Linked DNA regions of Homo sapiens. The protein of the gene in region 2 interacts with the protein of the main gene of each other region in a biochemical or structural test. Each region holds a gene or a part of one and is shown on either strand. Other genes may lie near its edges.

Evidence for each region. The genes of interacting proteins can lie anywhere in the genome.
Region 1: the proteins of PAIP2 (region 2) and UBR5 form a complex in vitro, tested with the Homo sapiens proteins (2 studies listed by BioGRID and IntAct, with this or other methods).

What each region holds. Positions count from the first base shown.
Region 1 is NC_000008.11:102,283,701-102,287,841, forward strand, and holds part of UBR5 (E3 ubiquitin-protein ligase UBR5), read right to left. Parts: intron 3,865-4,141; coding exon 3,733-3,864; intron 2,918-3,732; coding exon 2,660-2,917; intron 2,082-2,659; coding exon 1,813-2,081; intron 1,639-1,812; coding exon 1,427-1,638; intron 1-1,426. UniProt on the Homo sapiens protein: E3 ubiquitin-protein ligase involved in different protein quality control pathways in the cytoplasm and nucleus. Mainly acts as a ubiquitin chain elongator that extends pre-ubiquitinated substrates.
Region 2 is NC_000005.10:139,357,778-139,363,104, reverse strand, and holds part of PAIP2 (polyadenylate-binding protein-interacting protein 2), read right to left. Parts: intron 1-5,327. UniProt on the Homo sapiens protein: Acts as a repressor in the regulation of translation initiation of poly(A)-containing mRNAs. Its inhibitory activity on translation is mediated via its action on PABPC1.

The DNA.
Region 1 (4,141 bases), on a different chromosome or scaffold from region 2:
CAATTCTGCACATTTGACATTTCTACCATTTTTTTTCCCCCAGTTCTCACATGTTCAAAAGCAAGTTTGTCCATTATACTACTCTTAGGTTTTTCTCTTTAATTTTCCTATTAGTTACTCAGGATCAAGGTTTAAATATAAATGATGCCCCTGCTACTTAATCCCTCAACAAGGCCCTAAATTCTGTTTTTTATTTCAATGCTTCTCTCCCCTCCTTTTGGTCTTCACTGCCCTACTTTAGTAACTATTACCTCTACTGTAGATGCCTATCACTGTCTTTCTAAGTAATCTCTTAGACCTTTGTCTTTCCTCACTTTATGATCTGCCCAGAGTAACAAAGTTGTTTATCCTGAGGTAGAGACAGAACCAAATCCTTGGATTTTGACTTCAGGTATGAGGCACTTTTACTATATTACTGCTATTGCTCTGATGTTCAATATTTGAGCTGATACCTACTCCTGAAAAAGGTCACTTTATAACTGAATAGAAAGAACATAACAAATACATAGATATATATTTTATTTTAATTCAACAGACTAGGGGAGGCAGAAAAAAAGAAATGTGATTTGAGAAAAAAAGAGCAGCACTGGTAATCACACATACTTTCCCCCTCCTGAGTACAAAGTACATTCATAACCAATTATAGTCAAAATAACTTCCTAAGAGGAGAGGGGGAGGTCTTGGGGATAATGAGACAAAGATATAGACCAATAACTTCAAAAATAAAAAGGCTTTAGTATCAGATTCCTACGATATGAATGGATTTTTAAAAACAGCTTGGATGATAACTAGCCTATTCTGCCTCAACAATTTAAGTAATGCAAGCAAGTCATTTCTTTCTCCCTTCACAGTAAGATGAGGTCTTACATAATAGCAACTAAAAAGCTTTAACCTTCTAGGATACAAAGATTCTATCTAAACATGCAAGTATAGATACTCCTTGACTGAAGATGTGGTTATGTCCTGATAAACTCATCATAAACGCATAAAGTCTAAACGCATTTAATACCCCCAATAAACCCATCACAAAGTCAAAAAAAAAATGTAAGTTGGGGGTCGGGCGCTGTGGCTCACGCCTGTAATCCCAGCACTTTGGGAGGCCAGGGTGGGCAGATCACAAGGTCAGGAGATCAAGACCACCATGGCTAACACAGTGAAACCCCGTCTCTACTAAGAAAACAAAAAATTAGCCGGGCGTGGGTGGCAAGTGCCTGTAGTCCCAGCTACTCGGGAGGCTGGGGCAGGAGAATGGCATGAACCCAGGAGGCGGAGCTTGCAGTGAGCCGAGACGGCACCACTGCACTCCAGCCTGGGTAAGAGTGTGAGACTCCGTCTCAAAAAAACAAACAAACAAACAAACAAAAAATTGTAAGTTGAGGATCCATTTTAAGTTGGGGACGTTCTGTATATATGAAGAATTTCATACCGTCTGCCTTCAAGTGTTCGTAAGCTAGCTTCTTCTCGCGCAGTCATCCTCTCTCTTCTCGCTGAATTCTGAGAAGCGTGAAGAGGATGATTTGGATGTCCAGGATCACCAGCAGATGCTAATGCAGAACCATAACGTAATTGAGCTTCAGTAGAATCCATAATACTGACCATCCAGTTCCAAGTGGGAATAAGCTTTTCTTCTACATAGTTCTATGAAGACCAAACTAAAATAGTTAAAACTATCCAAATAGAGCTAAATTCGATACAGCAGCAGTATGTCAATATGTAAACGTTTCTAACATTTAATTCCCCTAATACTGGAATTCTCATAATTGACAGCCAAAAAAAAATAGTGGAATGGGAAACTTTTCAGTGGTTTCATACCTGTAAGTTTACTGCATCTTGGTAAGTCAATTTCACAGCTGCTGGAATCTGAGAGTATACTAGGTGATTATACTTAGGAATAAGGCCCATCAAGTCCGAGATTTGTCTAATGACAATGCTGTAAGCCCTGGCTAAACTGCTTGCAGATGTTAGGTAACTGCTGGCGTTGCTAGCTTCCAAAGCAGCTGCTGCAGCTGCAGCACTTGTACTGATGGTACCACTCCGGCGTAAGTTTGAAGGATCAATATAAATCAAACCCGCTGAACTTGCTATAAGGAAAAAGGACAACCACAATGAGCTAATGTCAGTTGCTAATTGTGTTTCTCTGGGATTATATATACTTACGTAAATCTAAATGGTCAATTGTGGTACCCAAGCAAAAAACTTTGCCTAAACCACACTATTTTGGGGAGAGGAGTATGGAGGGGACAAGAATTAATATAAAGTTCTCAACCAGGGGAAATCTGACCCCCACGCCACCTCCCCCCGCCAAAGGGGCTACACATTTGGCAGTATCTACAGACATTCTTGGTTATCACAACTGTGGGAGCCAAGGGGAGGGGAAGAAGGGTGAGAGGGGTTTCACTGGCATCTAGTGGGTGTAGGCTAGGGATGCTGCCTAACATCCCACAATGCACAAGACAGCCTCCCACAATTACCCAGTCCAAAGATGCAATAATGCAAAGACTGGGAAACCCTGCTATAATCATATGTACATATTTTTTATATTTGAAACTCAACAAAACAATGAGGAACTATCATAAAACTAATTTTATCCCCAGATGAACATGCATAATTTAAAAAATCTATCTAAGTATTCTTAGCAATACTAAGTTTTCAGACTTGCCTGCTGGTGTAGATGTACTGGAAGGGGCTGTACTGGCTGCTCGCTGATGCTGGGTGTTGCGGACAGCCCACTGCATTGAACGGGGAGCTTGGGCAGCACCATTGGCATGGGAGCTATTTGTGGTTCTTTCTAATGGCTCATCAAGCATAAAGGTCTCCTGTTCTATGTCGTCACTCTGACTACTACTGCTATCAGAATCACTTGAGTCATTCGATTGAGAATCATCTTCAGAAAAGAAGGCAGGAACACTGCTTGCTCCTAAAATTTTTATTTTTAAAACCAAAAACATTGTGAGTTTAATAATTAAAATTACAATGTACCCCCTCATTCAGGAAAACATACATATTAAACAGAATGCCAGATTGTATTCAATAATCCACAAAACCTACCATAAAATAGTTTTTATTAGAAAATAACTTTCAAGCCCAGCTCTGTGGCTCAGGCAGGACTGCAGTGGCACCATGTCGGCTCACTGCAGCCTCTGCCTCCTGGGTTCAAGCTATTTGTATGCCTCAGCCTCCTGAATAAGTAACTTTTAGCTGGGTGTGGTGGCACATGCCTATAATCCCAACAACTGAGGAGGCTGAGGTGGGAGGACTGCTTGAGCTCAGGAGCTCAAGACCAGCCTGGGCAACACAGTAAGATCCCAACTCTTTAAAAAAAAAAATTAGCCCGATGTGGTGGCTTGCACCTAGTAGACCCAGCTACTCAGGGGGCTGAGGTAGGAGCTCAGGAGGTCAAGGCTGCAAAGAGCTCTGACTGCACCACTGGAATATCCAGCCTGGTGACAGAATGAGACCCAATTTAAAAAAAAAAAAAAAAAAAAAAAAGGCAAGAAAATAAAAATCTTTTAAAGAAACTTTAAAATTCATTCATTATTTAATGACCAGAAAAGCTGGAGAAAGAGTTATTAAAATAATACTTTCTTTTCTAATACCCAGAGAACAAGGATGAAGTTATAAAAATGCTTAGCTACCCTTGCGTATATCACACAAAGTATGACCCAATCCACGCTGAATACACACACACAGCCTTAGCATAAGCAAGAAAGTAGTTGGGATAAGGCAACATACCTGCTTCTGAACCAGCAGTTGCTGCAGTGACAACGCTTCTGCGCCCACTAGCATTATCTTGGTTGCTGTGGTTACTTTCACTATCACTTTCTGTTTCAGCTGCTGCTAACAAGTCCAGCTCCATATCACTCCCTAAAAAATACATTTAAATAAGAAAAAAGCACAAACTCACTATGGTTTAAAACAGGGTCTGATAAGCCAGAATATCGTAAGGGTGGGAACTAAGAAGGCATAGGGGGTAGGAGTTGGGGAGAAGGGGAATGGTGTGAAAGAGAAGGGATAACTACTAAAATAAGACTAAGTAACTACTCAACCTTAGAAGAATGGCTAGGGAAATTATGGTAGTCAACAGACTAGTACATCAGGGCAGTGCAGGGGAGGACTGAAAGTAAATATACAAGCTATTAGC
Region 2 (5,327 bases):
CATGCCCAGCTAATTTTTGTATTTTTAGTAGAGATGGAGTTTCGCCACGTTGGCCAGGCTGGTCTTGAACTCCTGACCTCAGATGATCTGCCTGCCTTGGCCTCCCAAAGTGCTGAGATTATAGGTGTGCGCCACCACGCCCGGCCACATCTAATGTTTTCCGATAACAGTAAATGAAGTCCATCAGTTGCTTACATGGACTCTCCAAACCATCCAATTTATATTTTATATTACATATCACTTGCTTTGTAAAGCAAGCATGGTCGGCTGGGTGCAGTGGCTCATGCCTATAATCCCGGCACTTTGGGAGGCGGGGGCAGGTGGATCATTTAAGGTCAGGAGTTTGAGACCAGCCTAACATGGTGAAACCCTGTCTCTACTAAAAATACAAAAAAGGCCAGGCGCGGTGGCTCATGCCTGTAATCCCAGCACTTTGGGAGGCCGAGGCAGGTGGATCACCTGAGGTCGAGAGTTCAAGACCAGCCTGATCAACATGGTGAAACCCCGTCTCTACTAAAAATACAAAATTAGCCGGGCGTGGTGGCACATGCCTGTAATCCCAGCTACTCCGGAGGCTGAGGCAGGAGAATTGCTTGAACCCGGGAGGCGGAGGCTGTGGTGAGCCAAGATTGCGCCGTTGCACTCCAGCCTGGGCAAAAAGAGTGAAACTCCATCTCAAAAAAAAAAAAAAAAAAAAAACACCCAAAAACAAAAAATTTAGCTGGGCATGGTGGTACATGCCTGTAATCCCAGCTACTCAGGAGGCTGAGGTGGGAGAATCACTTGAAACCAGGAGGCAGAGGGTACAGTGAGCCGAGACTGCACCACTGCACTCCAGCCTAGGCAACAGAGGGAAACTCCACCTCAAACAACAACAACAACAACAACAAAAACCAAACACGGTCTGAAAGACTGAGTCATCAAGTGATGAAATGATGAAAAGCAAATTCAATTTTTAAAAACTGACTTCAAAAAGTCCAGGGATTGAAAGTGAAAACTAACAGATTTTTAATAACTTCTTAGGTTCTTCATGTATATAGCTCTGGATCTCTCCTTGATAGCCCATATTCTGTGTCTGCTTTTTCTCTAGGTCCATGTCAAGTTCTTCCATGTCTGGAGTTCCTCACTGTACAGTGAGTTTCAGGCATCTTTTTTTTTTTTTTTTTTTTGAGACAGGGTCTCACCCAGACGAGTGCAGTGGCGTGATCTCAGCTCACCGCAACCTCCGCCTCCCAGGCTCAAGCAATTCTCCTGCCTCAGCCTCCAGAGTAGCTGGGATTACAGGCGTATGCCATTATCACCTGGCTAACTTTTGTATTTTTAGTAGAGACTGGGTTTCACCATGTTGGCCAGGCTAGCCTTGAACTCAAGACCTCAAATGATCCACCTGTCTCAGCCTCCCAAAGTGCTGGGATTACATGCATGAGCCATCGCGCCCAGCCCAGTATCTTTTCACCTGAGTAAAAGTAGTATCAAATACAAGCCTGATGTCTTATACTACTCAATAGCTGATAACATGATCTAACCTAATTGATACATTGCAGGCTAAATATCTGAAGCACAAGGTTTCACATTCTAAAATATTCCAATTCATTAAGTTTGAAATCACTAAAAATAGATTTACATAAAACAATTCACCTGTACGTAAACTCAAGCAGTATAGTGACTTGTGCCAAAGAAAGGCTTATTGAGGTCTGCTTACCTCACATTTGTCATAATCAAGTAAAACACTAAATCTAAAATCTCCTACTGGAAATATATGTATTTTTTTCCCTTTGGGATAAGTTTCAGGGAAAAGATGAACCCTATGTGTGTTGCCTGGCCCTTTAAATTTTATGGACTTATCCTTAAGAGGACATAAGTGTAATAAAAATCCATAGCTGTTCATGTAATATGACAAATACTAGATACTAATGACAACAGGATCATAGTGGTGAAAATTTTAATTGTTGAGAGGTCCTCAACTAAAAATTTCTGGGAACTTCTGTCCTAGTTATAGTATGTATATCTATAAAAGAAAGGCAGGCCGGGCACTGTGGCTCACTCCAGTAATTCCAGCATTTTGGGAGGACAAAGCAGGCGGACTGCTTGAGCCCAGGAGTTCGAGACCAGCCTGGGCAACATAGAGAACCCCATCTCTACTACAAATACAAAAAATTAGCTGGATGTGGTGGTGCATGCCTATAATCCCAGCTATCTGGGAGGCTGAGGCAAGAGAATCACTGGAACCTGGGAGGCAGAGGTTGCAGAGAGGCAAGATCACATCACTGCACTTCAGCCTGGGCAAGAAAGCAAGACCCTGTCTCCAAAAAAGAAAAAAAAAAAAAGAAAGGCAGGAAGAAACAAACTGGGTGCGGCTCATGCCTGTAATCCCAACACTTTGGGAGGTCAACAGGGGTGGATCGCTTGAGCCCAGGAGTTTGATACTAGCCTGGGCAATATGGCAAAGCTGGGTACAGTGGTGCACGCCTGCAGTCCCAGCTACTTGGGAGGCCAAGGTAGGAGGATCTCCTGACCCTGGGAGGTGGAGGTTGCAGTGAGCTGAGATAGTGCCACTGCACTCCAGCCTGGGCGGCAGAGCAAGACCCTATCTTGAAAAACAATAATACAATCAAACAAAAGAAGAAAGGCAGAAACAGACTCAGAGTTATGTGCTATGGTGTTAGTAGAAAGAAAATATGATAATATGATTTGTTAGGAAATTGAGGCACTGTAAAAGCAGACAAGACAGAAAACAGACAATGGATATCTGTTATTTTTATCATTAAACTTGGATGAAAAACTATTTTGATAGCAAGTTTTGACTAAATAATAACCAGTTCCTCTAAAGAAAATAATTAGACTGGGTGCGGTGGCTCCCGCCTATAATCCCAACACTTTGGGAGGCCAAGGCGGGCAGATCACGAGATCGGGAGTTCGAGACCAGCCTGGCCAATATGGTGAAATCCCGTCTCTACTAAAAATACAAAAACTAGCCAGGTATGGTGGCACGCACCTGTAGTCCCAGCTACTTGGGAGGCCAAGGCAGAAGAATCGCTTGAACCTGAGAGGTGGAGGTTGCAGTGAGCCGAGACTGCGCCACTGCACTCTGGCCTGGGCAACAGAGCGCGACTACATCTCAAAAAAAAGAAAAGAAGAAAATTACCCATTTTTTTTTGAGACGGAGAGTACAGTGGTGCAATCTCAGCTCACTGCAACCTCTGCCTCCTGGTTCAAGAGATTCTCCTGCCTCCGCCTCCTGTGTAGCTGGGATTACAGGAGCGTGCCACCATGGCCGGCTAATTTTTTTGTATTTTTAGTAGAGACAGGGTTTCACCACGTTGGCCCGGCTGGCCTCAAACGCCTGACCTCAAGTGATCCGCCCACCTCAGCCTCCCAAAGTGCTGGGATTACAGGCATGAGCCACCGTGTCCGGCCGAAAATTACTCATTCTTATATGGCAGGCTACCAAACTGCTTACTGTTAAATAATTACATTTTAGATATTCCTCTAACACTGTGAATGGCTGGGATTGATCCTGCCTCACAACTGGATGGAACTTTGGTTAATCTGCATCTGAACCTTATCATTAAGTTAGGTACAAAGACACCCCAATATAAACAGGTTTTCATTATTTTCCCAATTTGTATCCTGTCCCAACTTATGCCCATAAAATCCTACTTTTCACACCGGGCACTGTGGCTCATGCCTGTAATCCGAGCACTTTGGGAGGCTGAGGCGGGCAGATCACTTGAGGTCAGGAGTTTGAGACCAGCCTGGCCAACATGGCGAAACCCTGTCTCTACTGAAAATGAAAAAAAATTAGCCGGGTGTGATGGCGCACACCTGTAATGCCAGCTACACAGGAGGCTGAGGCAGGAGAATCACTTGAACCCAGGAGGTAGAGGTTCCAGTGTGCCAAGATCGCGCCACTGCACTCTCCAGCCTGGGAGACAGAGTAAGACTCTGTCTCAAACAAATAACTTAGCTGGGTGTGGTGGTGCACGCCTGTGGTCCCAGATACTCAGGAGAGTGAGGTGGGAAGATCATATTAGCCCGAGGTCAAGGCTGCAGAGAGCCATGATCGCACGCCACTGCATTCCAGCCTGGGCAACAGAGCAAGACCTCGTCTCAAAAAAAGAATTTACTGTTTTAAAGTGTTTGATTCAGTGGTTTTAACACACCACCATTACCTAATTCCAGAACATTTTCACCACCCCAAAAGGAAACTCCATACCCATCTGTAGTCACTCTCCATTTCCCAAGCCCCCCAACTTGGACAACCACTAGTCTACTTTCTGTCTCTATAGATTTGCCTATTCTGAACATTGCATATAAATGGAATCATAAAATATGTGTCCTCTTCTCATGTCTGGCTTCTTTCACTTATTACAATGTTTTCAAGGTTCACCTATGTTGTAGCATGTATCAGCATTTCATTCCTTTTTATTGCCAAACAATATTCCATTGTATAGAGATACACATTTTATCTACTCTGATTAATGAGCATCTGCAGTCGTTTCCACTTTTTGGCTATTAATAATGCTGTTATCGGTATTTGTGTACAAGTTTTTATATGAGCACGTTTTCAGTTCTCTTGAATATATACCCAATGTGTTCAATGCTAGTCAGTCTTTTAGCTATACATTTTCAACTGTGATAGAAAAAATGAGTAAAAAAGGTAGCTGACTCCCTCCCCACCACCAGACACAATCCTCACTCCCAATCCTTTTCCCAAAAGTAAGCACTGCTAATGTGGTATATATTTTTCTTAAAAAGTAAACACATATGCAACAATAGTATTGCATTTAAGGGCCTTACAGTCATCATCTATTTAATACTCACAAGTCCTGTGGATGTAGGGATTATGGTCAAATTCATTTCCATGACAAAGAACTAAGTCTTAAGTAACTTGTTCCAGGTTACACAACTAGTGAACAGTGGAGCTGAAATTCAAGTCAAGGTAGCCTGACTCTAAAACATGCACCAGGGCCCAGCACTTTGGGAGTCTGAGGTGGGCCTCCAGACCCAGCTGTTGAAAACCAGCATGGGCAACATAGTGAGACCCCTATCTCTACAGAACTACTAAAAAGAACTGCCAATGCAATGATAAACTTCCAGAGGAATGCTTAAGAAAAAAAAAACCAACAGTTCAATTCTGGTAAAACACCTCTGTGGTATTTTAAACTACCCTAGTGCCATCTCCCATTTGCAGCTTGGTAAGCCTTGAAGACAATAGCCTGCATTCTTGGTACAAGTTGGAGGTAGCAATATCAATATTATTTTTATTTTTTTGAGATGGAATCTCGCTCTGTTGCCCAGGCTGGAGTGTAGTCGCGTAATCTCAG